Linked DNA regions of Homo sapiens. The protein of the gene in region 4 purifies or fractionates together with the protein of the main gene of each other region. This does not show direct contact. Each region holds a gene or a part of one and is shown on either strand. Other genes may lie near its edges. The genes, in order: PER1, FAM83H, FAM83D and CSNK1D.

Region 1 (7,021 bases), about 74 Mb from region 4:
AGGGGCCGGGGAACCCAGACTTTCCCTTAGTGGATTCTTCGCAGCCTAGGGAAGGGGCAGGAAGCTGTGCTCACTCCTCTCCTGTCTGTCCCAGGTTCAGGCCTCAGGGACTTTACCCAGGAGAAGTCCGTCTTCTGCCGTATCAGGTAGGTGAGGGGAACTGGAGAAGACCTCTGCCTCCTTTTTTTTTTGTTTTTGTTTTTGTTTTTGCTTTTTGAAAGGGAGTCTCACTCTGTCACCCAGGCTGGACTGCGGTGGCACGATCTCGGCTCACTGCAACCTCCGCCTCCCAGGTTCAAGCGATTCTCCTGCCTCAGCCTCCCAAGTAGCTGGGATTACAGGCATGCGCCACCACGCCCAGCTAATTTTTGTATTTTCAGTAGAGACGGGGTTTCACCATGTTGGCCAGGCTGGTCTCGAACTCCTGACCTCAGGTGATCCGCCTGCCTTGGCCTCCCAAAGTGCTGGGATTAAAGGCGTGAGCCACCGTGCCCGGCCTACCTCTGCCTCCTCCTGCCCCCTCCCCAGCGTCTTTGCTGTTGTCTGCTGTGACCTTATTGTTGGAGGAGTGGGTGGCTCTCTGTTGAAAGTCCCTAATGCTCCTCTCTCCTTTGCTAGAGGAGGTCCTGACCGGGATCCAGGGCCTCGGTACCAGCCATTCCGCCTAACCCCGTATGTGACCAAGATCCGGGTCTCAGATGGGGCCCCTGCACAGCCGTGCTGCCTGCTGATTGCAGAGCGCATCCATTCGGGTTACGAAGGTGGGCAGGTCAGGGCCCTGGCCTGGTGGGGGCTGGGAGGAAGGACATTTCCTCATGGCCAGACATGAATTTGGGAGGCATGAACCACACCCTTTGAATTTTGGAACAAGAAAAGCTATTGTAAAGATGAGGATTTGAGCTCCTCTTAGAGGTAGAGTTGAATAAGGTGCCCAAGCTAGAGGAGGGCAGAGAAGAATGCCTTGCTTGCTCTCAGTCATGTTACTGATACAGGGCATAGGATTGGCCCAGACCATCTTTGGGCCCATAGTGCCCGGGGCAGAGCTGTGTGGCAGATCATCAGCCAGCCTGGGCCCAGGCAGAGTGGAGGGCTGAGGAGTTGGGCATTCTGGACGAAACCCAGTGACCACACTCTCTGTGCCTCAGCTCCCCGGATACCCCCTGACAAGAGGATTTTCACTACGCGGCACACACCCAGCTGCCTCTTCCAGGATGTGGATGAAAGGTGAGGATAGGACCTAGAGGAGACGAGGGCAGCCAGGGCTGAGGCCACGGCCACTCTGATGCCTCCTTCCCGTTCAGGGCTGCCCCCCTGCTGGGCTACCTGCCCCAGGACCTCCTGGGGGCCCCAGTGCTCCTGTTCCTGCATCCTGAGGACCGACCCCTCATGCTGGCTATCCACAAGAAGAGTGAGTTCCTCTCGCCCTGCTCGCCCTTCCCACTGTCCTGGGCTTTTGAGTGGCTGCCCTTGTGGTTGTGTCTCTTGGTGCCTTGGTCTCCTGGATCTCTAGTGGCATGGCCTCCCTCTTACTCAGCTCTCCCTCCCTTTGACCGCTCCTCCTTTCCCACTTCCATCAGTTCTGCAGTTGGCGGGCCAGCCCTTTGACCACTCCCCTATCCGCTTCTGTGCCCGCAACGGGGAGTATGTCACCATGGACACCAGCTGGGCTGGCTTTGTGCACCCCTGGAGCCGCAAGGTAGCCTTCGTGTTGGGCCGCCACAAAGTACGCACGTAAGTGGGCCATGCCCCCGAGCTGGCGTTGGGGATAGGGCAGTGCGGTGGGGGACAGGACCGGGCCAGGGCTGGATTCACTCTTCACTCTACAGGGCCCCCCTGAATGAGGACGTGTTCACTCCCCCGGCCCCCAGCCCAGCTCCCTCCCTGGACACTGATATCCAGGAGCTGTCAGAGCAGATCCACCGGCTGCTGCTGCAGGTGAGAGTAGCGGAGAGGGAGCCTGGGAGGTGAGAAAAGGTGTGGGAAGCCGGGTCAAGCCATCTAACCTGCCCTCTCCCTGCTGCAGCCCGTCCACAGCCCCAGCCCCACGGGACTCTGTGGAGTCGGCGCCGTGACATCCCCAGGCCCTCTCCACAGCCCTGGGTCCTCCAGTGATAGCAACGGGGGTGATGCAGAGGGGCCTGGGCCTCCTGCGCCAGTGAGTGACCTGCTCCTACCTCACCCTCTAATCGCCCTTTCCCCTCTCCTTCTTGGAACCAGCACTGCCAGTCCCAGAGTCTTGCCCGATCCTCCTTTGCCCTCTCCTTCCTGCCTTTTCCTTCTTGTCCTGCTCCCATCAAGGCGTCTGTGCCTCCCCACTGGTACCTTCTTGTTTTATTGTGCCCTTGGCCCCTGACACTGGCGACACCCCCTGGTTCTGCTCACTGTGGTGCTGTGTCCCACAGGTGACTTTCCAGCAGATCTGTAAGGATGTGCATCTGGTGAAGCACCAGGGCCAGCAGCTTTTTATTGAGTCTCGGGCCCGGCCTCAGTCCCGGCCCCGCCTCCCTGGTGAGTTGATGATGATGTGTGGGTGAAGAGACAGACCTGGGGGGTCCCCTGACCTTCACCCCCAACCCATTTGCTGTTTTTTTCCATGTGAGCTTGAGAAGGCTATTTTCCTCTTTCTCTCTTTGCCCCAGCTACAGGCACGTTCAAGGCCAAGGCCCTTCCCTGCCAATCCCCAGACCCAGAGCTGGAGGCGGGTTCTGCTCCCGTCCAGGCCCCACTAGCCTTGGTCCCTGAGGAGGCCGAGAGGAAAGAAGCCTCCAGCTGCTCCTACCAGCAGATCAACTGCCTGGACAGCATCCTCAGGTAAGGCCTGCCAGGCATCTTCTCCACCTCGGGCTCTAACCCTGCCCACCCCAAGCCCTGCTCTGATGCCCTGTGCTGTGTCCATCCCCAGGTACCTGGAGAGCTGCAACCTCCCCAGCACCACTAAGCGTAAATGTGCCTCCTCCTCCTCCTATACCACCTCCTCAGCCTCTGACGACGACAGGCAGAGGACAGGTCCAGTCTCTGTGGGGACCAAGAAAGGTAAAGATCCAATGCACCCTGCTCCCACTGCCCCGTCCTGGCCTGGTGGCCCTGTGTCTTTTCCCTTCTGCTTCTGGGCCCTCTTGCTCTGCCCTGCTCTCCTCCCCAGCCTCCTGGTCTCCAGACTGTTCCCTCTGTTCCCTACCACCATCCCCTTCCCCTTTTCCCTGGGATCCTCTCTCCTGACTTCCCAGTGGGGGTGGGGATGGTAACTGGCACCATCTCTCTGCACAGATCCGCCGTCAGCAGCGCTGTCTGGGGAGGGGGCCACCCCACGGAAGGAGCCAGTGGTGGGAGGCACCCTGAGCCCGCTCGCCCTGGCCAATAAGGCGGAGAGTGTGGTGTCCGTCACCAGTCAGTGTAGCTTCAGCTCCACCATCGTCCATGTGGGAGACAAGAAGCCCCCGGAGTCGGGTATGGGTGTGGAATTGGGGGGCAGTGCTTGGGCTCCACCGGTCTCCCAGCTAGAGCTCCCTCCTGCCTTTCCCCTCCCCTCTAGGGCCTGATGGAGAGAAGGAGGCCTCCCTTGACCTGGGGCTTGGGGCTACTGCTTCTTGCTCTCCCCTCCCTGCCAGGCTTCTCGGCTTTGCCCTTCCCCTGTTCTGCTTCTCGTATTGTTACTGTCAGTTGAAACACAGAGTCTGGGATAGAGGGTTTGCCCTGAGGTGCTGACCACACAGGGTCTGAAGGCAAGGAAAATTGAACATCCCTGAAGGGTCTTTGGATATTGACCTTGAAAATCATGAGGGGCTGGGCATGGTGGCTCAGGCCTGTAATCCCAGCATTTTGGGAGGCTGAGGTAGGAGGATCACCTGAGATCAGGAGCTCGAGATCAGCCTGGGCAACATGGTGAAACCCTGTATCTACTAAAAATGCAAAAATTAGCCGGGCGTGGTGGCGCGCGCCTGTAGTCCCAGCTACTCGGGAGGCTGGGACAGGAGAATCGCTTGAACCCAGGGGGTGGTGGTTGCAGTGAGCTGAGATCGCACCACTGCACTCCAGCTTGGGAGAAAGAGTGAGACTCCATGTCAAAAAAAAAAAAAAAAAGAAACAAGAAAATGTGTGAGGGAAGGCCAAGGGGTGGGCTTCTCTTCCAATGAGAGTTGTGACGGGGTCATCCCAGTAGAGTTCCTGGCAGGGAGTGGCCACTGGAGGGGCCTGAGTATCGTCTCTTCTTCTGGGCCAGCTTTGCATGGAGAGGAGGACCCAGGGCCAGCCGTTGGCAGAGAGGTGACCAAGAAACGTACATGGAGACCAGGCTTGGCTGTGGGGCAGAGCTGCCAGGGGTTGGCTAGGCTATCAGACAGGGAGGGTGTGGTATGGATGTGTTGACCCCTGAAGTGGTTCTGATGACCTTTCCCTATCTCACTCTCCTCAGACATCATCATGATGGAGGACCTGCCTGGCCTAGCCCCAGGCCCAGCCCCCAGCCCAGCCCCCAGCCCCACAGTAGCCCCTGACCCAGCCCCAGACGCCTACCGTCCAGTGGGGCTGACCAAGGCCGTGCTGTCCCTGCACACACAGAAGGAAGAGCAAGCCTTCCTCAGCCGCTTCCGAGACCTGGGCAGGCTGCGTGGACTCGACAGCTCTTCCACAGCTCCCTCAGCCCTTGGCGAGCGAGGTAGCCACCTGGGGCCTCCTGGAGCCTGCCCTCTGCCCAGTCTAGGACTGGATTGTTGGGGGGTGGGTCTTAAGGGAGGTGTTTCTGCTCCAGGGACCCAGGCTGGTGTTGCTTCCACCACTAGGCCCTGCCTAGGGACAGGCCCCTCGCTAGCTTCTCCCCACTAGGATGGGGTTCCGGGCTGCAGCCAGAGGAGGGCAGCCTGGGGGGATGGCACTGGGATGGGCAGGCAGAGGTGCTGTCTCCAGGTAAGCGACTTCAGGCCTAGCCTGGGGGCAGGGGCAGGAAGTATGCCCACTTAGGAGTCAGTTGTCACTGATGAAGAGACATGCATAGATTCTGGGCCAACTCTGGGTGGGGTCTGGGCTTCAAGGGCAGGTGGAAGGCAGCCCCTCCAGGTGCCTGAGGGAGATCCCCTGCAGGCAGACGCAGGACTCAGGACTGGGCTTTCCAGCCCCACTCTTCACTCCATTGCAAGCTAGGCAGAATACGGCCTCGATGGGCAGGAGGAATGCCTAGGCTGGCAGTGCCCACAGGAGTTTGGCGGACCAGAGCCATCTGTCCATGTGTCCATGGACTCACCCTGCTTCCTCCATCTGCCAGCATGCCTCCATCTTCCGCACACCCCCAGCTCGACCCCTCGTGTAACCTCTCCCTGGCCTTGTTCCTTTCTCAATAAATCCCCTTGTCCCTGGCTCCTGTGATTCTTCCCTGAAGGTGCCCCACCTCCTGAGTCCCCCGTTCTGTGTGGGTTGAGAAGCTCTCTCTGGGACCTTGGCCTGTCCTCTCCCTGGTCAGCGTGTCAGGGCAGTGTGGGTAGCAGGGGTACTAACCCCAGGTTGAGGTCCTTGCTAACCCTAGTCTCTCCCCACAGGCTGCCACCACGGCCCCGCACCCCCAAGCCGCCGACACCACTGCCGATCCAAAGCCAAGCGCTCACGCCACCACCAGAACCCTCGGGCTGAAGCGCCCTGCTATGTCTCACACCCCTCACCCGTGCCACCCTCCACCCCCTGGCCCACCCCACCAGCCACTACCCCCTTCCCAGCGGTTGTCCAGCCCTACCCTCTCCCAGTGTTCTCTCCTCGAGGAGGCCCCCAGCCTCTTCCCCCTGCTCCCACATCTGTGCCCCCAGCTGCTTTCCCCGCCCCTTTGGTGACCCCAATGGTGGCCTTGGTGCTCCCTAACTATCTGTTCCCAACCCCATCCAGCTATCCTTATGGGGCACTCCAGACCCCTGCTGAAGGGCCTCCCACTCCTGCCTCGCACTCCCCTTCTCCATCCTTGCCCGCCCTCGCCCCGAGTCCTCCTCACCGCCCGGACTCTCCACTGTTCAACTCGAGATGCAGCTCTCCACTCCAGCTCAATCTGCTGCAGCTGGAGGAGCTCCCCCGTGCTGAGGGGGCTGCTGTTGCAGGAGGCCCTGGGAGCAGTGCCGGGCCCCCACCTCCCAGTGCGGAGGCTGCTGAGCCAGAGGCCAGACTGGTGAGCACTGACCCCTGCGTCTGCCTGCCAGCCCCCACCCCAGCCCCGCCCCTCTGCCACCCTGTGCTGCCTGCTGTCTCTGCCAGGCTGGCGTCTCAGCCTCCAGGAGGTGGAGGGAGTCCCCAGCTGAATTTCTGAATGAGGCAGAAATTGGCTACCTCCTCTTTGAAGGGACAGTCCTGTCTGTCTGACAGGTGGTGAGGACATCTCAATAACTTCTGAGAGAGCATCTGTCACTTGGAAAGGGTCTGGCCTCACATCCCCACTCTTCGCCAGCTTTCTTCTCTCTCAGCCTGGCCCTACTGTCACGAAGTGGGGAGCAGAGACCACTGGGGTTGGATGTGCCTCTCCCCACAACCAGTAAGAGCAGTTGAAGGGAGGCCTAGGTGCTGACCCCTCCATCCCTCCTTGCCCCCCTCCCCTCCTCCAGGCGGAGGTCACTGAGTCCTCCAATCAGGACGCACTTTCCGGCTCCAGTGACCTGCTCGAACTTCTGCTGCAAGAGGACTCGCGCTCCGGCACAGGCTCCGCAGCCTCGGGCTCCTTGGGCTCTGGCTTGGGCTCTGGGTCTGGTTCAGGCTCCCATGAAGGGGGCAGCACCTCAGCCAGCATCACTCGTGAGTACCCCGCCTCCAGCATCTCCCAGGGTAGGGCAGTGATTGGGGAGCCGGGAGCCCAGGCCCCGTCTTGGCGGAGCTTCCTAAGGCCACTGGGATGGACATGTGGCCTTTGAGGGAGGCCTTGTGAGGTCCCAGGAGTGGGCATGCAGCCGGCCTGACTCCCATTGGTCTGCCCCCCACTTCACAGGCAGCAGCCAGAGCAGCCACACAAGCAAATACTTTGGCAGCATCGACTCTTCCGAGGCTGAGGCTGGGGCTGCTC
Region 2 (7,235 bases), on a different chromosome or scaffold from region 4:
GGCCACTGCTCCGGGGTCTGAGCTGGTGCTGGTCCTTGCTGGGCACATGGAAGGCTGTGGAGCAGGGGACCCCATGCCGGCCCTGGGCCCCGAACTGCTGAGGCTCCATGAGGTCCAGCTGTGCCTGGCCCAGGAGCAGCTGCTGCTGGAGGACCGGTGGCGGCAGGTCCAGCTGCAGATGCAGCTGTGGCGGGAGGAGCAGCTATGGCTGCAGCAGCTACAGGAGGAGCAGCTGTGGCTGCAGCAGCTACAGGAGGAGCAGGCCTGGGTACACGTGGAGGGGCTGCAGCTGGCCGTGGCCCTGGAGCAGCTCCGGAGTGAGGGCTTCGAAGCACTGCAGACCCAAGGCCAGGTAAGGCCTGGATGGGGTGGCGGGAGGGGTCCCGGACTGTTGTGTTGGTGCGGTGGCCACTGCAGCAACCTAGGGATGCCTGTGGAGGCCCAGGAAGCCAGGCTGGATGCAGGGTATCTGTGGGCCCATCTTCACATCTGCCAAGTGAAGCCGGTGCCCGCCACACAGGGCACTGCAAGACCAAGGGACAGCAAGCCTGCCCAGGCTGGCCCAATGCTTGGTGGAAATGGGCACTGAGGGCAGATACTTGTTCAGGGACAGAGGTGTCCCTGCAGCAGACCCAGGCATGCTGGGCCAGAGCCGTCCAGGGCAGTGTATGGGCTGCGGTGCAGGGCGAAGGCCTGGGTGTGCAGTCAGTAGGTAGCAGAACTGAAGAGCACAGCCCCCACCCCTGCAACCCAGTTTCCTGGCTGCCTTGCTGGTCCACCTGCCCTGCCCCCCGTTTATTGGAGTGCAGTGTACTCAGGGCTAGAGATTGCGGAAGCAGCATGCGGCACCTGTGCCCATTATCCTCATTCCAGGAGGGCGGCTGGCCTCAGACGCAGCTGGGGCTATTTTGGGGAACTAGGATCTAACCCCAGCCTGGCGTGGAGGAGCGGTCACCATCATCCCACCTGCTCCTGTGAATCTGGGAGCTCTCTGGCAACCAGGGGTGTTAGGCCAGGCCCACTCTAAGCAGAGGGGCAGTCTGGGGAGCAGGATGGGGTGCTCTCTTAGCAAGCACAGACCCCAGTGCAGGCCTGGGTGCTGAAGGACCCCAGATTTGCAACCTGGAATGTGTTCACAGCCAGCATAGAGAATAAATGGGAGCTGGAGCAAGGGAGTGACAACAGTGAAGGCGGGGCTGGGGTGGGGGAGGGTACTGGGGGAAGTCTCCTTCCTGACCCACAGGAAAACCCAGCCCAGGTGAGCTGTCACCATCCAACCTGGAAGTGACTATGGAGAAGGTGACTGGGAGCAAAGCCGCAGGCAGAGGGCAGCACAGGATGGCCCAGATGGAGCAGAGAGTCAGAGAACACATGCTTAGACTGAGAATCCCCAACTTGGACTCAAACCCTCCTGTTTCAAAACCCATTTTTGGCCATCTAGGCGCCTCCCACTGGCTCCTGCCCCCTTCCCACCTCCATGTGTTCCAAAGCTGGGCTTCTCTGAGTGCTACCCCTAGGCCCCCACCCCAACCCCAGGGGTATAAGATTCAGGCTTGGCCGGGCATGTGGCTCAAGCCTGTAATCCCAGCACTTTGAGAGGCCGAGGCGGGCGGATCACCTGAGGTCAGGAATTCAAGACCAGCCTGGTCAATGTGGCGAAACCCCGTCTCTACTAAAACAAAAATACAAAAATCAGCAGGGCGTGGTGGCGCACGTCCATAATCCCAGCTACTCGGGAGGCTGAAGCACAAGACTCACTTGGACCCAGGAGGCGGAGGTTGCAGTGAGGAGGGATTGCGCCATTGCACTCGACTGGGTGACAAGAGCGAGACTCCGTCTCAAAAAAAAAAAAAAAAATAGATTCAGGCTCAAGGTCTGAGATGAATGAATGGGCTCTGAACCCTCAGTCAATCACACCTAATCCCAACTCAGAGGTCCCCTAAAAGCCACTCTTGGAAGAAGGGCTCTCCTCAGAGGGGGTGTCTCTCGGTGGCTACATAGAAGGTCTCACAGGTCAGTGTCTGGGTGACAGTGCTCTGGAGGTCAGAGGGTGCACTTACCAGCAGCAGCTCTTGTCTTGGGCCCAGGGTGGAGCGTCTGCCACTTCCCAGCTGCAGCTTTGGGTCTCCCCTTCTTACTGTCCATTCTCCTGGGGGGTGGGTAGGGAAGGACCAGGGAGAGGGTGCTCAGAGTGGCAGAGGGCAGGGGCAGTGGCAGTGGGGAACAGGGCACACCATGGGCGCCTGAGTGGATGACAGCAGGAACATGGGCTCCCCTGAGGCTTCCCAGCTGGTGTCCTGTCTGCCTGCCCGCCCCGGGTGTGTGCCCAGAAGCTTGAGCCGGGATGCCTGGCAAGAGCACTTGGCCACCTCCCGTCCCCCTGGCCGTGGCTTGCCTGCCCCTCCGCCCCAGGCTCAGCCCATCCTGCCGGGCGCAGGATCTGGAGTCTAGCACTCTTCTCCCTGCCCCAAGCTGCTGGGTTGCCAGTGGGCCGGTCTTTGTTCTCACCGTAATCATGAGCATGGCCCTCTCTGCTGAAGCCTCCATGCCTCTCCACTGCCCTGGGAAGCCAGCCCACCCCTGAGCCTGCTCCCCAGCCCACCCAAGGCACTCACCCCTCCACACCCTCAGACCTTATGTGGTCCCGGCTCTGGCAGATGGTGGTGTCAGGCCCTGGAGCAACACCCCTCTCCCTAGTCCACACAGCTGACCCCCAAGTTCATTTCCCTGGGAGGCTCCTCCTGCCTGCCCCAGCCTGTCCGGGTCCTCCCCGGTGCCCCATGCCCCTCACCCGCTGCAGCACAGTTGCCTGGGCACTGGTCTGACCCCCCACCCATGTTTCCAGCATGCTGGTACCAGTGGGGTGGCACTGAGTGTTTGGGGAAAGAACAAATGAAACTGGGACTGACCCTGAAAACAGAAAATAGGATCACATGGCAAGAGGAACAAAGAGAAAGGCGACTGATGACCATCAGAAAGGGTTGAGGCAGGGCCAGTCCTTGGGGTGGGAGTGGCAGGGGCGAGGGGTGGTGGTTTGGACAGATGATCCAGTGTAGGGCAGGGCCTAAGAGGGGGAGGGGCCCTAAGTGAGGGCCTGAGGGGGACCTGGGGGACTGGAGCACCCAGGGGCAGCTCGGGGTGGTGTGTGGGGGTTGCTGTGTACATGGGGGGGCGTCTGGTATGAGGCTTGGTGTGCACACTGGGTCCCTTGTCCGTTGGGGCTTGGTTTTTGCAGAGTCCCTGTGTGTACACAGGGTTCCGTATGTGAGGGAGGTCCCCTGTGCTCTCAGAGTCAGTGTGAATATGGCATCCCCTGTTTGTGTGTGGGGTTGGTGTCTGAGAAATCTCATATGCAGGTGGGGTTCCCTAGGTGTGCGGATGTCAGCGTGTTCGTGGGTGACTGGCATGGGCAGGACTCGGTGTGCTTGTGGCTTCTGTCTTCCTGAGGAGTCTCCTGTGCTTGGGGGTTGGTGTACATGAGGCACAGGTCATTCGGGGTCCGCATGTGCATGGGGGGGTCACTGCGGCAGAGTCCCCTACAAGTGTGGGCATCGGTGTGAGGGGGTGAGGGAGAAAGATGGGGGACCCCAGGTACTTGTGGGCATCAGTGTGTGTGGTGGGGGTTGGGGTCTGGGGGTCCTCTGTGTGGGCGGGGTCCTCGTCTACGTGTGGGGCGCTGGTGCGGTGGGAGACCGGTGTGTGGTGAGGGGATCCCCTGTGCTCTCGGGGCTCCCAGACCCGGCCCCGCCCGGGGCTCGACGCCGCCCCACCGTCCTCACCTGTCGCACCTGCCTCCCCCAACTCGGCGAGGAGGCCAGAGCTCCGCCCCTGGCGTCGGGCTCGCTCGTTTCCTAGCGACTGAGCCGGAACTTCCGAGTCACCCCGACTTCCGGGGCGAGGGTCAGGGGTCAGGCTGGGAACTTTGAGCCTTGGGTCAACAGTTGGGCTCCCGGGGGTCGGGGTCTTTGAAGTGCGGGCCTCACGGTCTCCGGCGGCGCTGGGCCGGGGTCTCCGGGCGCGCGGCCGCAGGGCACGGGCGGGTCGGGGCGCGGGCCGGGGGCGCGGGCTGGGGCTGGCGGCGGGCGCGGGGCGCAGGAATGCGGGCGCGCCGCGGGTGGGGCTGCCCCGCCCCCAGGTGCTGCCCGGGCAGGCAGGAGGCAGGAGCGACGGGCGGGGCGGGGGCGGGCGCGTGAATCAGGCCGGGCGGGCCGCGGCAGGGAGTGGCTGCCGGACCGACCGGACCGCGAGGCCGCTGGGCGGCGGTCGGCTCCTGCTGCCCCTGTGCCGAGACCCCGCGCACCTGGCCAGGTAGGGCCCCCCTCCCCCGGCCCGAGCGGGGCGGGGCGAGGCGGGGGGCGGGCGCCCCTTGGCGCGGTCCCACTTGGGCTACCCTTGCGCCCACACCTGGGCCGGGGCCGCGCGACCCAGAGAGGGGCGGTGGGAGTGGAGCGCGGCCGCGTGCGCGGGGCCGGGGTGGCGGGGCTGCTCGGACAGGGGGCGCCGCTGTGCGGATATGGACGCGAGCGCCCCCGCACGACGCCGGCCCGAAAAGAGCCGAGGGGGAAGGGGCCCGGGATCCGGGTCGAGCCTGCCCGGCCGTCCCGACTCGCTCCCGCCCTCGCGGCCTAGCTGGAGTCTGGGTGCTGGGCACGGCCTGGACCCTTCCCTGGGGACATCCGCCCGGGCCGCCGTGGACTGGGGTGGCCAGGGTGCGGCCTGGATCCCCGCGTGGCGAGCAGGGCGAGTGATGGGAGTGCTGCCCCTCGCGCCCACGTTCCTGGGCTGGGGTGGGCGGATAGGGCACCCAGCGGCCGCAGCCGCGAGCTCGTAGGGTGCACTGACCCCGTTGGGGGCTGGGGTGCCCACTCCGCAAGTTATCACTGAGCGACTTCCGGTCTGTGAGCCCCGTCCTCCGCACCCCACCTTTCCGCCGCCTAGAGCCTCCGCGCCCTCCTGCGCCCATCGGAACTTGGCACAGGTTCACCCCACTTTGTGTAGGAACTCCAGATCCTTCCATGGGGTCCTCCTTCCAGATACTCAGGAACCCCACTTCCTGCCAGGGTGGAGAGGATGGGGTCCTTGAAGGCCAGCTGAGGGCCCTGACTTCGAGTCAGAGGTCAGGGGTCAGCAAGCAGAAGAGTGGATTCGTGCTGAGTCATTGCCCATGGGTGGGTTCCGCGCCCTCCCTCCCTTGGGCAGACGTTTGGTAGGCAAATGTGTGGGCATGCAGGCCACTGGGGTGCTCCATCTTGGGCTCGGGAGTGGCTGCAGCCCCGTCCATAGCCCAGGAGACACGTACCCATGAAAGGAGACGACGTGAGGAATGAAGCAGTTGGAGGTCTGGGCATCACCCTGTGAGGACGAGGCATGTCTGCTGGGAGGGCTCCTGGCCACGGGGGCTTCCACTGTCTGGATGGTCCCTGCCCCCATTACACACAGCCTGGAGCCTGGACACTGAAATCCAAAGGGACAGTGGGGGTCCTTTCTAGAGTGTCCCCCCAGTGTCGGGAAGTACCCTCAAACAACATCAGCAGGGTTGTTCCCCCTGCCCTGTATGGTCAGACACCGCCCCTACAGACAGGCTGGCAATGGTGAGTGGGCTCCTCGGCCCAGCCAGACAGGCCTACACCTCACCCCCATGTGGTTGGCCTCGATCTGCCCCTGGCACAACCAGAGCGGTGTGCCCTAACCAGCCCCATATGTCAACCATGAGGACGGTGCCCCAACAAAGAAATGTTGGGACAGCTTCTCCCAAGCCGGTTGGCATCTAGGGCTGTTGAGTGGCACCAGGTATTTCCCATGTCTCAACTCCATGTCACCCCCAGGGGCACCAGGCAGGACGGCTGCCTCCTGACCCCAACATTCTCAGCCAAGTGGCTCCGGCTAGCACCCATGTAGTCCAGCTGGCCGGCATCCATCCTGTCAGCGCCCAGGGGCACGCTCCTCTGGGCACCTTCCTAGCCAGGGCCAACATTCAGGAACCTGTGTGCTAGGCGGGGACAGGTGTCCTGCCTCCCTCCCCAACCCGAGGAGCAGTGGGATGGACTGAGCAGTCCCTAGGGCTCTCCTTCCAGGGAGAGGTACCCAGGTAGCTCAGTGACCCTGTGTGCGTGGGCCCTGGGCGCTCCCCATCTGACACCTTTCTGGAGAGGCCAGGCCCCCGCAGGGACCCTTTGGAGAACAGAGTGGGCTGTGGGGCAGCCAAGCATGGATGGTGGTGGCGAGCCCAGGACCTGGAAAGGTCCCTGCTGCCCTGGATGGGGGCTGGTGGGGACAGGACTCTGAGCAAGTGGAGAGCCAGATTTGGGCGATGTGGAGTGCAGGCCCTGCAGGGCCCTGTGGGCACCAAGGGGCTGTGGCCCAGGGAGGTTTTATCTGAGAGGGACAGTGACAAGAAAGAGGTCAAAGGTAGGCCAAGGGAAGGAGGGGGTGCTGGGAGACAGGGACGGAGTCTAGGGATCAGTGTTCCAGGACTGGGCGGTCATAGAATGGGCTGTGGGAGCCCAATTGTGAAACCCTGAGGATGGGGAGGAGGTGTGGCCCGGGACTATGTGTGGGGCTTAAGGTTGCCATTCCAGGAGGAGGGTAGTCACAGCCCTGTTTGCTGCGCTCACCTTGGGCTAGGCGTGGTGTCATGTGGACCCTCAGCTGTGTTGTGCAGTAGAGGTAGGCCAGAGAGGTGCAGTGACCTACCCACAGTCTCCCAGGCAGTCAGAGACGGACACATGGGCAGCATGGGCGGCACCAGCTTGTCCAGTAGGCACAGTGCCAGGGGTCCGTGAATGTCTTAAAATAAGAAAAAAGTGAATATTATAATGATGAATGCAGCCTGGATTGTTTGTCTTTAAGCCAACAGTCATGAAATATTTGGGGGGGGGGGTTCGTTTTATTTTTATTTTTTGTAGTGATGTGGTCTCACTCTGTCACCCAGGCAGGAGTGCAGTGTCACAATCATAATTCACAGCAGCCTCCAACTCCTGGGCTCAAACAATCCTTCTGTCTCAGCTTCCCAAGTGCCTGGGACTATGTGTGCACGCCACCATGCCTGCCTAATGTTTAAAATTTTTTGTAGAGATGGGGTCTTGCTGTGTTGCCCAGGCTGGTTTCAAACTCCTGGCTTCAAGCAGTCCTCCTGCCTCAGCCTCCCAGAGAAAGGAGAGACAGGGCTGGGATACCTGTGCCCCAGCCCTCTGCCAGTGTCCCCTCAGCTAGGGGCATCCTAGGGTCTGGGTTGC
Region 3 (6,831 bases), on a different chromosome or scaffold from region 4:
GCAAGTGCCACCGTGCGGGGCCTGGCTCTGCACACCCAGGAAAAGTCTGCAGACCCCCAGCCCTCCGCAATAATTCACCAGACCAGAAGCCACTGGTGTACAGAGAACACTTAAAAAAATGTATTTTATGTGAAAAAAAATTAAAACTCTGTATACTGTATCAGCAGCTTTGTGTAAAAATGGCAATCAAGAGAGTCTAATATATTTAAAACTTTTTTAAAAAAAATCTTCGCAGATCTTTGATATCGTACTGAGGTAACTTCCACGTAGCCCCTTGCCACGCGGCACCGGTGGGCCTTGGGTCCAAAACTGTGGCTCAGCCACATCCCAAAGGGGGCACATGTCCCTGGAGTTGCTTCCAGCTGCCAAGGCCTGTGACAGAATTCGCTGTTAAGAGTTTTTAATTAAAATTATTAAATTCCTTTTAATAACACCTGCTAGTGTGAGTGATTATTGCTGTGAGCTCACTTGAACAGTGCTGACTTGAATTCACAAAGAGGAGGTTCCTGGAATAGAGGGTGGGTGAGAGCTCCTAGTCTCTTCCCCCTTACCCCACCCCTTTCCCACAGAGGGCTTTCCCATGAGACCCCTGAAATAGAGGGAGCTCTGGGGGCTCAGACCTGGAGCAGATGTCTCCCCAGACTAGGAGATGGTGAAAACTGATGAATTCAAGAAAAGGTGGGTGGTTGGGAATGACCTTCATTCTGTCAAATAATCTCTTTGAAATTAACATGAGGCCGTATAGTAGCATATATTTATTCCATACATTTTCAAAGTTTTTCCTGATATTTATTTATTTATTTTTATTTTTTTAAGATGGAGCCTCACTCTTTCACCCAGTCTGGAGTGCAGTGGCGTGATCTCAGCTCACTGCAACCTCTGCCTCCCGGGTTCCAGCAATTCTCCTGCCTCAGCTTCCCAAGTAGCTGAGATTACAGGCGCTCGCCGTGATGTCCAGCTAATTTTTTGTATTTTTAGTGGAGATAGAGTTTCACCATGTTGGCCAGGCTGGTCTCCAACTCCTGACCTCAAGTGATCCTCCCGCCTTGAGCTCCCGAAGTGCTGGGATTATAGGCGTGAACCACCACGCCCCGCCTCTCATGACATTTATATGTAACAAGGGTGCCCCTCTCCTCTGTCCCATTCTTGGAGTGAACTGACATGTCCTGTCCTCTTCCCCCTGCCCCATTCCACTCTTTCCCCTCGTGTGCTTATTGTGGGGAAGTACGATACTATAAAGTACTTCACCTTATGACAGCAATACAGCAGCTAAGGCCCCGGCCATTCTCATTTTTTACCTCGAGCATTAAAGGCATAGAGAAGCTATGTGGTTGCACAGCCTCAGACCACAGTCCTTGGTCCTTGTCCCACACAGAACTTTGTTGGTGTTTTTCTTGAAAGAGGATGAAAAGGGTGTCGGATCACAAGGTCAGGAGTTCGAGACCAGCCTGGCCAACGTGATGAAACCCCATCTCTACTAAAGATGCAGAAAATTGGCCAGGTGTGGTGGCATGAGCCTGTAATCCCAGCTACTCAGGAGGCTGAGGCAGGATAATCGTTTGAACCCTGGAGGCGGAGGTTGCAGTGAGCCGAGATCACGCCATTGCACTCCAGCCTGGGTGACAGGGCAAGACTCCGTCTCAAAAAAAAAAAAAAAAAAAAAAAAAAGAAGGTGCTCTCTTGCAGCCTCCCGGACCCTGGATACCAGCGCAGGGACACATGGAAGTCCCCACACTTATTCTTGAGAAACTTCACAAAGGGATGGGGATGGGGAGAGGAGAGGTAGAGAGGGAGAGGCGTCTCAACAGCGGCAGGCATTCATCCATTTAAAAAGGTTATTGGTTGCTAAATAATAATGGTAACATCTCACATTTATGACCCACTTTTCATTTACATAAAAAAGATGACGACTGAAAATTGACTGTTGGATTTAGCTCTGTGGAACTCATGATGAACCTGACAAGAGGTTTTGGTAAAGCAGTGGGGGTTTTAGCCTGATTGAAGAGGGCTGGAAGGGAACTGGAGACAGCAAGTATAGACAACTGGTTTGAGGGTTTCTTTTCTTTTCTTTTCTTTCTTTCTTTTTCTGAGACAGGGTCTTACTCTGTCACCCAGGCTGGGGTGCAGTGGTGTGATCATAGTTCACTACAGCTGCAAACTCCTGGGCTCAAGTGATCTCTTGCCTCAGCCTTCCCACTGGCTGGGACCATCATGAGCACTGCCATGCACTAAAAGTTAGGCGCACCACCATGCCCAGCTAACTTTTGTATTTTTTTGTAAAGACAGGGTCTCACTATGCTGCCCAGGCTGGTCTCAAACTCCTGGGCTCAAGTGATCCTCTTCCCTTGGCCTCCCACAGTGCTGGGATTACAGGTGTAAGTCACCATGGCCAGCCACATCTGAGATTCTATGCTGCAAAAATAAGAAGTGAGATGGGGAGCTTTAGAGGAATGTAGGGTCAAGAGAGGGTTGTTTTAAGATGAAAAATATTTCAGCATGCTTGTAGGCTGATAGAAATGAATCGGTAAAGAGGGAAGCTGATGTTCCAGGAGAAAGAAGAAGATTGCTGGAGCGATGCTGGTGAGTAGTAGAGGGGCTGGAAATGCCCAGGCAGAGGGGTTGGGGTTGGATGGGCACAGGCACAGTTCATCAATGCCCAGTATACGGGCAGAGATGCAGACAGGAAGGTAGACTAGATGGCCGCACGTGGACGTTCCCTTCTTACTGTTTCTGTGTTCTTGCTGACATGGAAGACAAGCTGTCAGAGAGGAAAAGGTAGAGAGAATGAGGGAAATGCGGCCTACCAGGCAGTTTTTTTGTTTGTTTGCTTTTGTTTTGTTTTGTTTTGTTTTTAGATGGAGTTTCGATCTTGTCGCCCAGGCTGGAGTGCAGTGGTGCTATCTCGACTCACTGCAACATCCGCCTCCCGCGTTCAAGTGATTCTCCTGCCTCAGCCTCCCGAGTATCTGGGATTACAGGCGTACACCAAGACACCTGGCTAATTTTTGTATTTTTAGTAGAGACGGGGTTTCACCGTGTTGGTCAGGCTAGTCTCAAACGCCTGACCTTAGGTGATCCGCCCTCCTCGGCCTCCTAAAGTGCTGGGATTACAGGCGTGAGCCACCGCGCCCGGCCTCCTAGCAGGCAGTCTTACGGATTATGAATTTAAAACATGACCAGTCAGTAAGCATGGTTACGCTCTTTTTGTTTTTTCTTCAGCCCTGTAGGGCTGCCGGGGTGCAGGTGGAAAGTAGGGTATAACCACGGTTGGTTGGGGTTTTACAAGGCAAAAATCGATGAAATGAGAGAAGACTACCCGAGGGTGTAATCAAAGGAGCAGTCCTAATACGATGAGCCGGTATTCTTTGAATGAATGAATACATGGTTAAAGGCAGGTGATAAAGGCGATATGGTTGGCCATGCCAAAGCACTGAGAGCCTAGGAGCAGCGTGGCCAGAGTCTCCGGGAGTCGGCACCTGCCTCTCCTCGTTGTCTAGGCCTGACTGTCCCTGGCCTTGCACGGCCGCGCAGCGGGGCGACCGGCAGGGGGCGCGCTGGGATGGCCAGGAGCTCGGCTCTCCCCGCTCTGTCCCTGCTCTGCGGCCCGCCTCGCCCCTGCAAGTTTAAATTCCTCTTAGCAAGCCCAGCATCGCAGCCAATAACGCATCAGGGGGCGGAGCCGTAGAGGCTTGCGCCCCGCCTCGCTCCGCTATTGGAAGGAAAGCAGCCAATGGGAGAGCCGAGGCGGGGAGGTGCGGCCAATGGCGCGGGCCTGTTTGATTCAAAGGTTGCCTATAAAGCGGGACTGCACGCCGGTTTTTGTCCGAGGGCTGTCGAGTCCGAGCGCCGCCATGGCTCTGCTGTCCGAGGGCCTGGACGAGGTGCCCGCCGCCTGCCTGTCGCCGTGCGGGCCGCCCAACCCGACCGAGCTGTTCAGCGAGTCACGGCGCCTGGCTCTGGAGGAGCTGGTGGCGGGCGGCCCCGAAGCCTTCGCGGCCTTCCTGCGACGCGAGCGCCTGGCTCGTTTCCTGAACCCCGATGAGGTGCACGCCATTCTGCGCGCGGCGGAGAGGCCGGGAGAGGAGGGCGCGGCGGCGGCGGCGGCGGCCGAGGACTCGTTCGGCTCCTCGCACGACTGCTCTTCGGGCACCTACTTCCCCGAGCAGTCGGACCTGGAGCCACCGCTGTTGGAGCTTGGCTGGCCCGCCTTCTACCAGGGCGCCTACCGCGGCGCCACGCGTGTCGAGACGCACTTCCAGCCCCGCGGCGCTGGCGAAGGTGGCCCCTACGGCTGCAAGGACGCTCTGCGCCAGCAGCTCCGCTCGGCGCGAGAGGTGAGCGGCCCTCCAGGGCCCTGGGTCGCACGGGAGACCCCCTTCAAGAATGGGAAATTGAGGCCTGCTGGGAGTACGGGCCGGGGCCACTACCTCCTCTGCGCCCTACCGGAAGCGCGCGCGGGCTAGGTGGTCCCAGGGTCTCCGACTCACACCCCACTCTGCGTGTCTCCCCCGGATCCCCCGGGCCGCTCCTCGTGGCAGGGGATAGTGGGAAAGCCTCGGTTCCCAAGGATGCGAATTGTGCCCGGGTTCCATCTCCTAACGTTCATATCCCTGAAGGAGGGACCAGAAGTACTCTGAGTTCCAAATTTCAGTTAAAATCAAACTTGGAAAATTGCCTATTTCCCTGTCTGTCAGCCAACGCTAGATCCCACTTTCAGGAGCTTCTTAGGAGACTCATTACCAAAGAACTTACGCAGGGAAAGTTCCAGAAAGATGGTCTCCAGAGACAACTACGGGGCATTAGGAAGCAATTATTATTGCTAATTACTTTCATGCATCTTTTGCTGTAAAAAGCAGATAAACACGAGAGTGGCAAAGTGAGAGCCCTGCCGCTTTTTCTTTCTTGTCTTTTTTTTTTTTTTTTTTTTTTGAGACAGATTCTCTTTTGCCCAGGCTGGAGTGAAGTGGTGGGATCTCAGTTCACTGCAACCTCCGTCCCCCGGGTTCAAGTGACTCTCCTGCCTCAGCCTCCCAAGTAGCTGGGATTACCGGTGCCCGCCACCACGCCCGGCTAATTTTTGTATTTTTAGTAGAGACGGGGTTTCTCCATGTTGGCCAAGCTGGTCTCGAACTCCTGACCTCAGGTGATCCACCCGCCTCGGCCTCCCAAAGTGCTAGGATTACAGGCGTGAGCCACCGCACCCGGCCCCCTGCCGCTTTTTCTACTGCCAGAGACTGGAGGGGAAACTGGGGCAAGGGGTTTGTTTTCCATAGGCTGGGTCTGTGCCAGATTGCAGTGGTCTCCTAAAATGCAGATACATTTGCATTAGATCGGCTTCTGTATTCATAGTGGGTTTTGGTCCTACTGTCTGACTCTTAGTATGGCATGGTCATGGGTGCAATGGAGGTCTTGTCTGCTTGCCAGCCTCGATAAAGCTGCAGCAGGGTGCTGGGGATCAAGGAGGAAGAAGGCAGCCTGCAGGTGGGTGTGGCACATAGAGTGTCGTGGCAGACACCTTGGTCTGGAGCCATGGTCAGGTTGCTTGCTGACTGGCAGTGCCCAGCTCCCTGGCTATCTGCCTGTGCCAGGGACATGGCAGATAAAGCCCCAGCCATGTTAAGACTTGTTAGGGCTGGTACCTGAGTGTGTCTGAGTGTGGGTGAAGATACCAGTGCATTGTCAGGTTGACATGTCCAAGCCCCGACTCTCACCAATGTTCTTAATGTTCTTTCCCTGACTGGTGGGGTTTCAGTGGTAGTGGATACAGTGACCTAGTGCCTTGCCTTTGAGGGAGTGGTTGTGGGCTGCAGCTAGGCTCTTACCAGCCCTGAGGTGCTTTGGGTGGACTGAGGGTTTTTTGATGCAGCAGACATTTTCCTTGCGGGTTCAGTGAAAAGATTAAAAAGATGGAAAAGGCAGACTTGTGTAGGTATGCATCCCCAAAGCTCATGTCCAGTAGAACTTGAGCACTTGGAACCTGAAAAATGTAAAGAACTGGTCTGTATAGTGAGAGCTGTGGATTGTTCTAGTCTTTTGCCCAGCCCCAAATTTTAGTGATAGCAAAAGGGCACTGGAACTAGAGGCCAGAGGGAAACTATTAAACTCACGTGCTGGCGTGAGGAGGGGATGGAGCCAGGAGCTCAGACTCTCCCTCATCTCACGGGCATTTTGTAATACTGACATTTCCAGATAGAACCTGCTGCCCTAGTCTAGCTACCCACAGTTCCCTCCGAGATGCTGTATTTGGAACCTGGGCAGTTTTAACTGAGAAAGGTGGTACATTACCTTTAAATCCAATGAGTATTGGCTGGGCACAGTGGCTCAAGCCTGTAATCCCAGCACTTTGGGAGGCTGAGGCAGGCAGATCACGAGGTCAGGAGTTCGAGACCAGCCTGGCCAACATCGTGAAACCCCGTCTCTACTAAAAATACAAAAATTAGCTGGACGTGGTGGTGCGTGCCTGTAATCCCAGCTACTTGGGAGGCTGAGGCAGGAGAATTGCTTGAACCTGGGAGGTGGAGGTTGTAGTGAGCTGAGATCACACCACTGGACTCCAGCTCTGGGCGACAGAGCAAGACTCCCTCTCGGAAAAAAAAAAAAAAAAAAATCCAATGAGTATTTTCAGTGTGTCCGATAGATGCCAAATTATTTGCTTACTCATTGCCTGCTGTGTATCAGACACTACCATGGCTGGGGCCACAGGGGAAGGCATCATCCTTGCCAACACTTGAGAGTGGACAGTGTGCTGATGGGAAACAGTGAGGAGTTTGCTGCAGGTACTGCGGAAAGGGCTAAAGAAAGAAAGTCTCCGGAGTGGCAGTGACCTCAGAG
Region 4 (7,021 bases):
CAAAGGGCACTGGGACGAGACTGCCTGCAAAGCCCCCCACAGGCTGCACGTTTCTCCTCATGGGATGACAGCATCATCCCCACAAGGGGTCAGAGCCAGGCCTCTCAGCTCCCCCAACAATCGAAAAAACCCCACTCGCCATGGCATCTCCCTGTGGGCTCAGAACTTCCTTAAACTTCCAAATGGGCAGCAGCTACCCCCTGCTGCTCTGTGAACATGCTCACTAACACGTGCAGAAAGAGGAGAGGGACAGGAACCATCGGAGGCCAAAGACAGGCCCCAAATGGTGACAGCTGGGGAGGAAAGCGGGGTGGGGATGAGAGCGTTTGGTCGGACGAGGAGTACACTCAGGGTCCGGACCCTGCAGCCTCCAACAGCCTGTGCAGGTGTGGTGGCGTGGCCAGCAGCCGGCAGCCGGATCTGTGCTGCACTATCCAGATGCACGGGGGTGGGGAGGTCAGATTTTAAGCCGAGACAGCAACCTATGAAAAAGCAGATTCTAACTGCCAATGCTGTGCGGCAGGGGCCTGCAAACTACAGCCCCGGGGCCAAACCCAGGTGCCACTTCTTCCTGCAAGTACAGCTCATTGGACACAGCCACGTTCACCAGGCAACACACAGACCGACACACCTGCGGCTGCAGCACCGTGCGGCCAGCACCGCCCAGACTCCTCATGCTGCCATTTACGGAAAACGCTGGCCTAGCCTGCTCTGAGGGCCGGGTGACTCTAATGCCGCAGGAGGGTCGCTCTGATTCCTCCCGAGGCAGCACAGCCCCGGCAGAGGGACTGATCTGCCCTGCCGAGTGCACCCCTCCCGGCACCTGGGCCCCGAGGCTCGGGCCTGCCTCGCCTGCCATCTCTCCGGGGCCTCCAAGTACTCCCCACGCTGATGGGCACTTGGCAAGTAAGTCAAGATGAACAGAGTGCACCCCTCCCAGCATCTGGAGACCCCGCCCCTCCCTGGCCCCTGCACGACTACTGGACAAGGCTGCCGTTTTTGTACCCTCCCAAGAGGCAGTTCTGCTCCTCCATCAGACTGCTGCCTGGAAAAGCTCCAAATTCTATTTAAAACTGACAACAAAACAGTAAGTTTTTAATGAAGGAACACAACAGTTCCACAGGAGCTTCATTTCTGACAGCGGTGTCTGAAAAGTAATTCAGCTCAGACATGGACCCAGGGCTGGGCTGCCTGTTTTAGAGGCTCCACTGCATACTCACACCGCATCAAGAAAGCCACAGGGAAAATCAGCTCATGACAGGGTCAGTCAGGCTAGACGGGTAGCACCTCACCAGGCCCCAACCCCACTCATCTCGTGGGCACCACGACCATGTGGCACAGCGAATGGGAATGCGCACCCCCAGCCCCCACCCTCTGCCCCCAGGGCATGCTCTGGGCCCTAGCTCCGCTTGGTGACAGGGAGGGAAGGGGCCTCCTGCTGTCCACACCCAGGAATTCCATGGACCCCTCTGCGTTCCCTAATGGCGTCTTACTTCTTGGCACCCCTTTCTGGCAGGCAGACACCCACTCAGTCCAGGTCCTGCCCACTACACACTTGCCCTTCACAACCAGAGACACTCCCTATATGGTACAGCCCCTCAACAAGACGGCCGCCGGCCTCTCACTGACAAGCCATCCCCCGCACACCACACTCAGCGAACGTGCTGGCAGTGCGACTTACAAATTTGAGCATGTTCCAGTCGAACACGTAGTCATAGGAGAAGCCCTGGCGATGGAACAGATTCCGGAAAAGCTGCCGCAGGTACGAGTAGTCAGGCTTGTCGTCAAAACGCAAGGAACGGCAGAAATTCAGGTATGTGGCAAATTCGGCTACAAAACAAGAAACTCAAAGCTAACTCATGAAACCCAACTGCGACTCAAGGTGTCTCTGCCAACGTCGCTGTCTACCTCCTGCTGCTGCACACTCAAGGGGAGAAGGACAGATGCAAAACACCTGTCAGATTTCTAAGACCTGAAGCCTTGAGAAAGCATCGAAAAGTATTCAAGTCACGGCCGGGTGCGGCGGCTCACGCCTGTCACCCCAGCACTCTAGGAGGCTGAGGAGGGCGGATCACGAGGTCAGGAGATCAAGACCATCCTGGCTAACACAGTGAAACCCCATCTCTACTGAAAAAAAAAAAAAAAAAGTTCTAGAGCGTGGTGGCGGGCGCCTGTAGTCCCAGCTACCGGGGAGGCTGACGCAGGAGAATGGTATGAACCCGGGAGGCGGAGCTTGCAGTGAGCCGAGATCACGCCACTGCACTCTAGCCTTGGCGACAGAGTGAGACTGTGTCTTAAAAAAAAAAAAGAAGTCATAAAGCACAATTTAGTTTCATTTGAGGTGTGTATCCTGGGGCAATCCTACAAATGCAAAGGAAATCTCCCGAGCTCCTGGAGGGGGCCAGAGAGGGCAGCCACTGCAGAGAGAGGCCCCACCACTGCCTGTCCATCCCTTTCCAGCCACTTGGGGCCCTGAGGCTCGGGCCTGCCTTGCCTGCCATCTCTCCAGGGCCTCCAAGTACTCCCCACGCTGATGGGCACTTGGCAAGTAAGTCAAGATGAACAGGAGGGCAGGCTGTTACCTCCATACACAAAAGCGCCCCGCTTTCCTGCCACCACCCCTTTGGAAGGTGAGCAACTCTTCTGACAAAACCCAGACTGAGCCGTCTCGGCACACCCGACACATATGCAACCCCTGTGAGCAGCTCCGCTGAGAAGAGGCCTCCAGAGACTTACAAGGGTAGCCTTTACACAACACTTCGATGGGGGTGGACATTTTCTTCTCGCTAATCCTTTCGTATTTCTGTCTCTTGGTGGCAGCCTTCAGCCCCTGCCAGGGGAGAGAGCCCAGGTTGAAGTACATTAGCACGTAGCCCAGAGACTCCAAGTCATCTCTTCGGGATTGTTCTGAAAAGAAAAGGGAAAGGCGTGAAGAACGGCACTTGCGTGCTCACGTCAAAGCAAAAGACCCGGCTGGCCGTTCCAGTGGAGACTAGCCTCAGACACACATGCCCAGATCACTCCAGCTGGCACTTCCAGTGGAGACGAACCTCGGACACACATGCCCAGATCACTCTCACCCAGAGCTGCCCCTCATGCATACTAAGGAAATTCCCAAACACATCACAGGTGACTCAGAAATGTCCCAGCATCCGCCTGCCCCCATACACCTGGCAGTCACGAGCCAGCCTGTCTGCCGCAAAGGTCTGATGACACGCTTGCAGCCCCAGCTCCCCGAGAGGCTGGCCTCTCCCTGGGCTGAGGCATGGACGCGCCCAAAGGCACCCCAGGTCAGTGACCCCATGCCCAGGGGCTCACCAATTCCAAGGTGCGTGTTGATGGAGGCGTACCGCGCCGTCCCCGTGAGGTTCTTGTTCTCACGATAGGGGATGTGCTGGTGGGTGCGTGCATCCCGGTACTTCTTGGCCAGCCCGAAGTCGATGATGTACACCAGGTTGCCCTTCTTCCCCAGGCCCATGAGGAAGTTGTCTGGCTTCACATCCCGGTGGATGAAGTTCTTTGAATGAATGTATTCGATGCGACTGATCTGTGAGCAGAGCAAGGGCGCGAGATGGCACCCCAGGGCAGTCTCAGGGAGGGACCGCTCAACTGTGGGACACTACATCAGTGGCTGCATTGTTCCTGCCCCTCAGCCACAGCAGGGTAGTTTAACAATTAGCGAGGGGGATGCCGAACTGACCAAATTGTTCCCCCAGGTGCCTGCAGCAACCCTCCACACTCCACCCTCCACAGGCCTAGGCGCTTTGCCTTCAGCTCCCACAAAACAGAGAGGTGAGGCGACAGAGAGGGGACAACCCGCCACTAGACATCGGTCTCTCCCAGCACTGTTCTCTGCACAGACTACACACCAGGATTAGCAGAGAAACTGCACGGAGGTGCTTAGGAATCACGTGTGTTCCTGAGAGACTGAGGAACCCACTGAATGGAAACGTGCTATGCTGGTACCGAGAAGGTGGCCTCCAAGCCAGTGAGCTGAGCCACCAGAGCCTCGAGAAGCCAGTGAGCTGAGCCACCGAAGCCTCCAGAAGCCTCGAGAAGCCAGTGAACTGAGCCGCCGGAGCCTCGAGAAGCCAGTGAGCTGAGCCGCCGGAGCCTCGAGAAGCCAGTGAGCTGAGCCGCCGGAGCCTCGAGAAGCCAGTCAGCTGAGCCGCCGGAGCCTCGTGAAGCCAGTGAGCTGAGCCGCCGGAGCCTCGAGAAGCCAGTGAGCTGAGCCGCCGGAGCCTCGAGAAGCCAGTGAGCTGAGCCGCCGGAGCCTCCAGAAGCCAGTGAGCTGAGCCGCCGGAGCCTCGAGAAGCCAGTCAGCTGAGCCGCCGGAGCCTCGAGAAGCCAGTCAGCTGAGCCGCCGGAGCCTCGTGAAGCCAGTGAGCTGAGCCGCCGGAGCCTCGAGACGCCAGTGAGCTGAGCCGTCGGAGCCTCGAGAAGCCAGTGAGCTGAGCCGCCGGAGCCTCGAGAAGCCAGTGAGCTGAGCCGCCGGAGCCTTGTGAAGCCAGTGAGCTGAGCCGCCGGAGCCTCGAGAAGCCAGTGCAGTGCGCTGAGCCGCCGGAGCCTCGAGAAGCCAGTGCAGTGCGCTGAGCCGCCGGAGCCTCGAGAAGCCAGTCAGCTGAGCCGCCGGGGCCTCGAGAAGCCAGTGCGCTGAGCCGCCGGGGCCTCGAGAAGCCAGTCAGCTGAGCCGCCGGGGCCTCGAGAAGCCAGTCAGCTGAGCCGCCGGAGCCTCGAGAAGCCAGTCAGCTGAGCCGCCGGAGCCTGGAGAAGCCAGTGCGCTGAGCCGCCGGAGCCTCGAGAAGCCAGTGAGCTGAGCCGCCGGAGCCTCCAGAAGCCAGTCAGCTGAGCCGCCGGAGCCTCGAGACGCCAGTGAGCTGAGCCGCCGGAGCCTCGAGAAGCCAGTGAGCTGAGCCGCCGGAGCCTCGAGAAGCCAGTGAGCTGAGCCGCCGGAGCCTCCAGAAGCCAGTCAGCTGAGCCGCCGGAGCCTCGAGACGCCAGTGAGCTGAGCCGCCGGAGCCTCGAGAAGCCAGTGAGCTGAGCCGCCGGAGCCTCGAGAAGCCAGTGCGGTGAGCCACCGGAGCCTCGAGAAGCCAGTCAGCTGAGCCGCCGGGGCCTCGAGAAGCCAGTCAGCTGAGCCGCCGGGGCCTCGAGAAGCCAGTGTGCTGAGCCGCCGGGGGCCTCGAGAAGCCAGTCAGCTGAGCCGCCGGGGCCTCCAGAAGCCAGTGAGCTGAGCCATCGGAGCCTCGACAAGCCAGTGAGCTGAGCCGCCGGAGCCTCCAGAAGCCAGTCAGCTGAGCCGCCGGAGCCTCGAGAAGCCAGTGAGCTGAGCCGTCGGAGCCTCGAGAAGCCAGTGAGCTGAGCCGCCGGAGCCTCGAGAAGCCAGTGAGCTGGGCCGCCGGAGCCTCGAGAAGCCAGTGAGCTGAGCCGTCGGAGCCTCCAGAAGCCAGTGAGCTGGGCCGCCGGAGCCTCGAGAAGCCAGTGAGCTGGGCCGCCGGAGCCTCGAGAAGCCAGTGAGCTGGGCCGCCGGAGCCTCGAGAAGCCAGTGAGCGGAGCCACCGGAGCCTCGAGAAGCCAGTGAGCTGAGCCACTGCAGCCTCAAGGCTGAGGCTCAGCAAATTTCCATTTCCTCTGTGAATTAATGGCCATAATAATGGCAAGAACAGCACAAGCGAGTGGCTGATTCTATCAGACAGCAAGTGTGTGCCAACTGTCAGGAAACAGTCCTTACCATTTGGTCAGCAAGCAGCAGGACGGTTTTGAGGCTGAATTTCCTGGAGCAGAAGTTGAAGAGGTCCTCCAGGCTTGGCCCCAGCAGCTCCATCACCATGACGTTGTAGTCCCCCTCTGCCCCGCACCATCTGATGGTGGGGATGCCCACTAGGCAAGGAAATCAGACACAGTGTTTCAGTCCAGGCCCTGCCTCAGCTCCACACTAAGTCTGCACTGTGCACACCAAGGGGTCATGGTGACAATCCTGAACGGGGGAGGGGTGGTGGAGGTAGAAGACCCCGGCAACGCCGCTCCTCAGGGACCCATCCTCGAGATTAGGCCCCATCTATTAGCAAATGGCCTGAGGCAGACGTTGGATGAGGGCCAAGCAGACAGGAGCTGTAAGGGGGACAAGGAGGGGATCGAAGCCCCACCTCCCCGACTCCCGTCTTCTAGGGCAGGGGGGCAGGAGACACAGAAAGCAGCCACGATGTGGGAAAGAAAAGAGCTCAGGCATAAAGGAGCAGCAGAGCCCGCCAGAAACGTCACACAGGAGATGGGAGGAGAGAAAGCAGCTACCGTGGGTTAGGTGAGAGAAGAAAATATGTTCAATTACTCCGATGTTGGTAGAAGTATTTGACTGGATAAGAGAAAAGCAAAAGCAATGAAAACTTTTTGGGGATTTACACAGTAACCCAGGATTGAAATATACAAATCAGGGAAGTGAAAATAAAGACACAATAAATCCAACAGGAAGAATTTAAAGATGGCTGCATAGTATCAGTGCTGAAGGCATAATCAACACTATAAAGGCACACGGGCCAGGTGCAGTGGCTCATGCCTGTAATCCTAGCACTTTGGGAGGCTGAAACGGGAGGACTGCTTGAGCTCAGAAGTTCGAGACCAGCCTGGATAACAAAGGGAGACCCTTGTCTCTACAAAAAATTCTGGAAATTAGGTGGGTGTGGTGGCACGCTTCTGTGGTCCCAGCTACTTGGGAGGCTGAGGCAAGAGGATCACTTGAGCCCAGGAAATGGAGGCTGCAGTGAGCCGTGATGGCACCACTGTGCTCCAGCCTGGGCCACAGAGCAAGACCCTGTCAAAAAAAAAAAAAAAAATCCATTTTAGAAAAAATGGGTGAAAGACCTGGACACTTCACCCAAGACGTTACGTATGAAAAGTCAACGACCACAAGAAGATTCTCAGAGAGATGGAAAACACATGCTGGTAAAAACATGCACAGGAATGTGCACCGCAGCCTCACGCCACAGTCAAATTCAAATGCTGCAGCAACAGGTGGGTTTCTCAA

The links.
Region 1: the proteins of CSNK1D (region 4) and PER1 purify together in Homo sapiens (affinity purification with mass spectrometry; 5 studies listed by BioGRID and IntAct, with this or other methods). This does not show direct contact.
Region 2: the proteins of CSNK1D (region 4) and FAM83H purify together in Homo sapiens (co-immunoprecipitation; 6 studies listed by BioGRID and IntAct, with this or other methods). This does not show direct contact.
Region 3: the proteins of CSNK1D (region 4) and FAM83D purify together in Homo sapiens (affinity purification with mass spectrometry; 5 studies listed by BioGRID and IntAct, with this or other methods). This does not show direct contact.

The regions. Positions count from the first base shown.
Region 1 is NC_000017.11:8,142,384-8,149,404, reverse strand, and holds part of PER1 (period circadian protein homolog 1), read left to right. Parts: intron 1-94; coding exon 95-146; intron 147-618; coding exon 619-761; intron 762-1,145; coding exon 1,146-1,224; intron 1,225-1,301; coding exon 1,302-1,408; intron 1,409-1,577; coding exon 1,578-1,731; intron 1,732-1,826; coding exon 1,827-1,935; intron 1,936-2,023; coding exon 2,024-2,155; intron 2,156-2,402; coding exon 2,403-2,508; intron 2,509-2,639; coding exon 2,640-2,811; intron 2,812-2,902; coding exon 2,903-3,033; intron 3,034-3,267; coding exon 3,268-3,447; intron 3,448-4,333; exon of another isoform or gene 4,334-4,411; coding exon 4,412-4,654; intron 4,655-5,528; coding exon 5,529-6,139; intron 6,140-6,569; coding exon 6,570-6,756; intron 6,757-6,946; coding exon 6,947-7,021. UniProt on the Homo sapiens protein: Transcriptional repressor which forms a core component of the circadian clock.
Region 2 is NC_000008.11:143,730,764-143,737,998, reverse strand, and holds the start of FAM83H (protein FAM83H), read left to right. Parts: upstream 1-4,219; 5' UTR 4,220-4,308; intron 4,309-4,845; exon of another isoform or gene 4,846-4,916; intron 4,917-7,235. Other genes in the region: IQANK1 (IQ motif and ankyrin repeat domain-containing protein 1), read right to left, coding at 2,061-2,145. UniProt on the Homo sapiens protein: May play a major role in the structural organization and calcification of developing enamel. May play a role in keratin cytoskeleton disassembly by recruiting CSNK1A1 to keratin filaments. Thereby, it may regulate epithelial cell migration.
Region 3 is NC_000020.11:38,922,592-38,929,422, forward strand, and holds the start of FAM83D (protein FAM83D), read left to right. Parts: upstream 1-3,825; 5' UTR 3,826-3,851; coding exon 3,852-4,334; intron 4,335-6,831.
Region 4 is NC_000017.11:82,249,698-82,256,718, forward strand, and holds part of CSNK1D (casein kinase I isoform delta), read right to left. Parts: intron 5,881-7,021; coding exon 5,732-5,880; intron 3,548-5,731; coding exon 3,319-3,547; intron 2,908-3,318; coding exon 2,737-2,907; intron 1,831-2,736; coding exon 1,682-1,830; intron 483-1,681; exon of another isoform or gene 1-482. UniProt on the Homo sapiens protein: Essential serine/threonine-protein kinase that regulates diverse cellular growth and survival processes including Wnt signaling, DNA repair and circadian rhythms. It can phosphorylate a large number of proteins.